Regions from separate parts of the Homo sapiens genome. Here region 2 is linked to region 1. Evidence: fine-mapped expression QTL. A gene starts in region 1. The other region holds a variant in brackets. All regions are shown on one strand. Distances are between the middles of the regions.

The links. PIP is the estimated chance that this variant, and not a neighbour inherited with it, causes the effect. A credible set is the group of variants that fine-mapping cannot tell apart.
Region 2: its variant is the best candidate, but not a certain one, in a credible set for the expression of GALNT16 in atrial appendage (GTEx, PIP 0.82).

Annotation. Positions count from the first base shown.
Region 1 is chr14:69,258,729-69,261,623 of GRCh38, reverse strand. It overlaps GALNT16 (polypeptide N-acetylgalactosaminyltransferase 16), which reads right to left and starts at 1,466. Exons shown (of 15, transcript NM_001168368.2): 1 at 1,157-1,466. The coding sequence starts at 1,333. It overlaps GALNT16-AS1 (GALNT16 and EXD2 antisense RNA 1), which reads left to right and starts at 1,097. Exons shown (of 4, transcript NR_184249.1): 1 at 1,097-1,334. RefSeq lists a silencer at 361-420.
Region 2 is chr14:69,298,290-69,301,184 of GRCh38, reverse strand. All of the region lies in intron 1 of GALNT16 (polypeptide N-acetylgalactosaminyltransferase 16), which reads right to left. It overlaps LOC105370549 (a long non-coding RNA gene), which reads left to right and starts at 388. Exons shown (of 2, transcript XR_943979.3): 1 at 388-532; 2 at 1,071-2,895. The variant T/C (reference allele first, on the strand shown) is at 1,447.

The sequences.
Region 1 (2,895 bases):
ACCTTGCACCTCCCCCGCGGATCTCCTCACCCCTCCACCCCCAGGCCCAGATCTTTCCTTGTCGGAATCGCCACGCTTCCTCACTCCTTTACCCCCGCCCCACTCGGCTCTCCTCTTCCTGGTCCTCATCCGGCCAGGCTGCCCCGCCCTGGTAGTTCCCGAGGGTCGTCCGAGGCTCTCGTCCACCAACCGCCCCCGTCTGGAAGAATGCGCCCGCTCGAGCGCACTCTCGGCGGGTGCCAAAGCCTCCCGCCTCAACAGGTGCCCCTGCCTGGCCACGCACAGCTCTGTCACCTGGGGCTCGGACGGAGACGGCGACAGGATCGCCCCCTGCAGGGCGGCTGCGGCTCCGCACGCCCCCGCCCGGGTCCCCAGAGCGCCAAGGGCCCCCGCAGCCCCGCCGCCGCCCCCGCTGTGCCACACTGCCTTTGTTTCCCTGCCCGCTTAGATGTCGCGAGGCTGACTTCATGCAAGGGTATCGCCAAGTTCGGGCGCTGACACTGCCCACCTACCCGTGGTGGCGGACCCTAAGGTTGGGAGTGAGAGACGCGTACAGTGCGAGACCTCTCCTCAACCCAGAGAACTCCGGGGAAGCTGGGTGTCCGCGCCGAAGAAGCGGGTTCAAGTTGACCCGGCTCAGAAGGGGGTTCGAAGCCAGGCGCAGCGCCTAGAGAGCCTTCCCCTACCCACGCCCCCACCCGATGTCCTCTGCCCCCAGAAGGCTGGAGAGGGGCTGCGCACTGCCACCTACGCGCTCGGCTGCGAGTGGTTCCCACCGCCCGCTCGCCGCGCGCTGGGCCCGGCAGCCTTCCGGGGCACACGAGGCTCCCGCAGCCCCCAGACTCCCGGCCCCGGCAGCGCAGAGCCGGGAGAGCCGCCACGTTCCCAGCCGCGCGCGCACGCCGGGCCCACCAAACTTGCAGCACTTTCTCCCAGCCCCCACCCTCTGTCACCCTCCCTTAGTCGGTGCGCCCCAGCCCCGCCGCCCGGCAGAGGTTGCCATAACAACGGGCAGGAATGCTCCAACATATACAAAGCCGGCCCGGCGCAGCGGGCACTCAGCCCTGGCCGGGCCCCGCGCCCTCGGCCGCCGCGCAGGGTCTGGACGCGCGCCGCGGCTCCCTAGCCGGCCGGCCGACGCTCGGGGCGTACTCACAATGAGCGGGATGGTGCGGTCCTCGCGGAGCTGCTCCGACCTCCTGCCTGCCCTCTGCGCGCCCCGGCCGCCGGAGGATGCTGCGTGGGCTCGGTTGTCCTGCCATAAGTAGTAGAAAGTGCCCAGGATCCAGGCTACGGTCAGGATGGCGATGGCATTGGCGCGGATCTTCCTCATGGTGGGCAGACGGGCGCCCCAGGTGGGGGACTGGGCCGGCGTGCTCTCGGGGCCGGGGCGGGGGCGCTCGCAGCCCCAGCTGTTTGTTTTCGCTCGCGCCTAGCTGCTCAGTCCTGCAGAGCAGAAAAAGGAGAGAGGTGGGGGGGCGGGGGGGTGATAGGGAGAGACAGGATCGCGGAGCGATCCTCACGGTCCTAATGCCCTTCAGCCCCGAGCGCGCGCGTCCCCCGGGCGCCCATTCATTCGTGCGCAGGGCCGGCCCCGCGCTCCAGCCGCCGCCGGCTGACCCACCAGGCCACTGCGCACTGGGAGAGAAGCGCGCCGAGTGGGAAGCGGCGCGGGCCTTCCTCCCGCGCCCGGGAACCCGGCGAGACAGACGCCCGCGGCGGAATGGCGACTGGCCAAAGCCAGCCTCGGCTCCCACCGCTAGGTGACCGAACGCCCGGCAGCTGCCCCCGCGCGGCCCTGGTCGGTCCTGCCGACCCACACCCACCCCCGGACCGAGCGGCCTTGAGTCACCGACTGGAGACGCGCGACCCCCGACCTGGGCCCGCGCCGCGAGCTGCAGTTCCGGGCTGCGCTCTGGCGCGGGATTCAAGGTGTGTTCGGCGAGTCCTTGTGTAGGGGCGGCTGGGCGGGGGAGAGTCCTGAGTTTGTACTGGAATCTGCAGCTGAGATTAGCCAGACCGGGCCCGCCCAGAGGAGGGATTGGAAGCTGGTGCACTTGACATTCGAAGAGCGCGAAGGGGAAACGACGCTGCCTCACACCCAGTGCTAGGAGAGTGCGGGTACGGCCCTTCCACATTTTTCGCTGGCCTGGGGCTCCCAGATTTCACGATGCTTCCCTCTATCCCGCCTCATTGACCCCTGGACAACCCTGAAATATCATCGTCAGCATTATTTCATCGGAAAGAAGGGCAGCAAGAGAGGCCGGATGATTCTCCCAAGGCCACACAGCTAATTAGTGGGCAGAGCCCAGTCTAGAAGCCATCTCACCATCTGACACCTTTCGACAAAGTGCAAAACGCGGTGGTGAGAGACGAGGACACAGACATTAAGATTCCGCTCCAGCCCTAGAGGCACTGAGAATCAGAACGTGAACTACTCTTCACTCCAGGCAGAAAGCAAGAGGCTTGGATGAGTTTTAGGAAACCAGCACAGTGTCGGGCACAGAGCGCTCAATGAATAGATGTGTAACAACAAAGTAGGGATCCAACAGAGGAAGAAATAATTTATTGTAAGGTGGCCTTTGGGAAAGCTCTCAGAAAGGTGGATGAATCACTTAAGAGGTAAGGAAGGGGGAGGTGAGGACAGGGGAGAGACTGCAGAAATAGGCCTTGCAAAAATCCAGAGGATGGAAGAGCTTGATGTGTTCAAGAGAGAGAGCTGCCAGGCGTTGCAGGGGGCCTAGGATTTGATAGGAGTTGAGGTTGGCCAGGCTGGGTGAGTCTGAACTCAGGAGGTCCTTGAATGCCGGGGCAGAGTTGTTGAGGAGTCTGCTTCCTGCTGGCACTGCTGGACACCATGGCTACTCCGAAGACCCACATAGGGTCCAGCCTCTA
Region 2 (2,895 bases), 40 kb before region 1:
TCACAAACTCCTGAGGTCCATTCTTGGAGTCCAGATTCAGAATCCCTGGTGCAATCCCAAGCCTTTGGCACTCCCTGGAGCCTGAAATCCCCAAGTTCCTTTTGGGCCAAACTGGTTAAACATGGATTTTGAAAAAAGGAACAAAGCCAGGGATAGAATTAGCTCAGCACTCCCAGGGGGCTGCCTCACAGCAAGCACTTTAAAGTGTGTGAGAGAGAATATGATGCAGAGGAAGAATTTCTTGTACTCTGAGTACCGCTGAAAAGCATTCAATTTGGGAGGGCTCCACGGACAGGAAGAACCAGAAGGTAAATCCCAAGTTGGTACCTCTGACTTCCTATGTCCCATGCCTTTGGGATGGGGCGGGGAGGGGAGTGTGGGGGTAGGAACAGGAGTTTTGCTTTAATTCTGAGTTGGATGTCCTCTTGCTTTGAAAGATCTCTCAAGAAGCTGTACCAAGAACCAAACTCCAAGACCTCTACCAACTGTCATTGCACAGGGGACTGCTAGGACCTAGGAGGAGGGCCTGCAGGTAGGGCAGGTGATTTGGCAGTAGCTCTCCAGAGGTTAAATGGGCACACCCCAAGTGAAATGGAAGATTCTGCAGATGACTCAAATCAATATTTAAAACCATTCCTGCAGGCTTCAAACATCACCCCAGACCCTAATAGGCAAAAGCAAGCGTGGTTTTCTGAGATCAGAGAATGCTGCCTGGGCTCCCTAGAGGGTAACGGCTCTTAGAGGTGGCCTTAGAGGTGGCAGCAGCAGAAGCATCACTAGCTACAGCCCCAGTGACAGCAAGGGCAGGAGTGGCATCACCCCAGTGCTGATGCTGCTCAGTGTTTCCATTTCTGGGTCTGCATATTTGTGAATATGTGAGTGTGCTTATGTGTATACACAGGCACAAGCTTTGCTGTGGACAGGGATGTGTCTGTGTGTATCAGAGCACATGTGTGTGTGCGGGTGTAGCACACACACACTTTAAATACAAGTTCTTCAAGGGGACACAGAGGGGTTCACCCAGTGGTTAGAGATTCGCTTATTTTGGAATTGACTTTTGTTTTTTCAAGTTTCAGAGCCATTTGTGGGGAAAGGAGGCAGCACCCTAGGAAACATCCCTTCCTAAAATGTGCACACACGTGCTAAAAGCAGCCGCTGATGGGCTGGGGAAGAGAGGCCTGGCTCTCTGGGGCTTCATCCTTTCATCCTGCTTCTGAGGCTGCTCGAACTCTTGTAACATCTCAGAGCTGCTCCATCAGACCCTGTAACACGGACACCTTGGTGTCTTAGAAGGAGATAAGGACAGAATCTGTGGGAAGCCTCCACTGTAGCCTGAAAGTTCCATGGTGAAGATGGGGTTCCCAGCAGCCAGCCCAGGGGAGTGACAGTCACAGGCCTCCCAGAGACCTGGCCCAGGAGTTTCCTCAATACGCTTCTTGGAGGCTT[T/C]ATGAAGCAGAAGCGTGGCTAGGGCTCTGGGAGGCAGGAAGACCTGATTTGAGTCTCAGCTCCCCACAGTGAGCAAGATGTATAATTCACTCAGCCTCCACCTCTGCACCTGCAAAATGGGGACAATGACAGAACCTCTTCCTTAAGGACATTAGGAAGACTCAAGGTAATGCCTCCACAGCACACTGCTCAGCACTCCCCACCCCACCTTACGGATGAGGCTGCCCCAGCTCTGGAGCACCCCCGGAGGTCAGCCACAGTCTTTGCTGCAACACCATCACAGTGGAGCATCTCCCTTTGCACCATCCTGTGTGCCTTGCGAGTATTCATTCCAAAGTACTGCCAGATAAACTTGCTGCATGCAAACCTCCGTCTCCGAGTCAGCTTCCTAGGAACCTGAGACTTGAGGCGAGATCCCTTAGGGAGCAAATGAAGTGAGAACAGCCTTGACAAACAATTCTGGAGGAACAGTAGGGACAAAAACCTCACTGGAGTGGATTCAAGAAAGAATGAAAGGAGAGAAACAGCACAGCAAGGATAGGCAACTCTTTCCAGGAGTTTTGCTGTTTTACTAGGAGCACAGAGATGCAGAAACAGCATGCCATTTTCCCAGGGCTACTGCACGTGCTGAAATCGGGCCCTAGATATGGACACCTGTCCTGTCTGCCTCAGTCTCAACTGCACACAGATGTTTCTTATGCTTCATCCAAATTGTCCAGTTGTTCTCAGCAGAAGAACTGCTCTGATACAAGCTAGTTCATTCTAGCTGGGAGCAGAAGTGCAAGGCCTCGGCCTTGGGTGATGTCCAGAGTTGAGTGTCGGGATCTCTGAAGACACAGGAGGCAGCTCCCTCTTGGCTGGGCCTACCTCTGCAGGACAAAAGCCTCCAGCCCTTGGGTAAAGGCAGATGCCTGGCCTCCCCCGACTCCAACTCTCCTCAGTCACACCTGCCTGCCTACAGCTCCAGCACCACAGAAGATACCCAGTAAAGCCACTAGCAACCTTCCCACTAGGCCCCCAGATCTGGCTTATTAAATTGTCTTCTGTCACAAGGACCACTTACTTACAACAGCTGTTGCTGTGGCAACCAGGCAGCCAGCCTTCCGCTCCAGCTAACAGCCATGAAGCTCCTGCTGACTACTTGGCTTGGGCAACTGCAGGGGAAGTTGCCCCCAAAGTGTCTGTGAGGATGGAACATGGTGGAGGACGTGGGAAGTGGCGACAGGGAACGGGAGGCTGATTGTGAAGTGCAGAGATTTGGAATTGTTCTATCATTCCCTACCAACAGGTTGGAAGAGCTATGAGATGACTCCCGCCAGAGGGGTTCCCACACCTTCTTGTGATATAGGCCACTTCTCCAGCAACACCTCCTTACCCACTCCACTCCCTATCTACAAGCTGAAGGAGGGAGGGCCCTCCAGGGGCAGAGAGAGGGCCACACACAGCTAG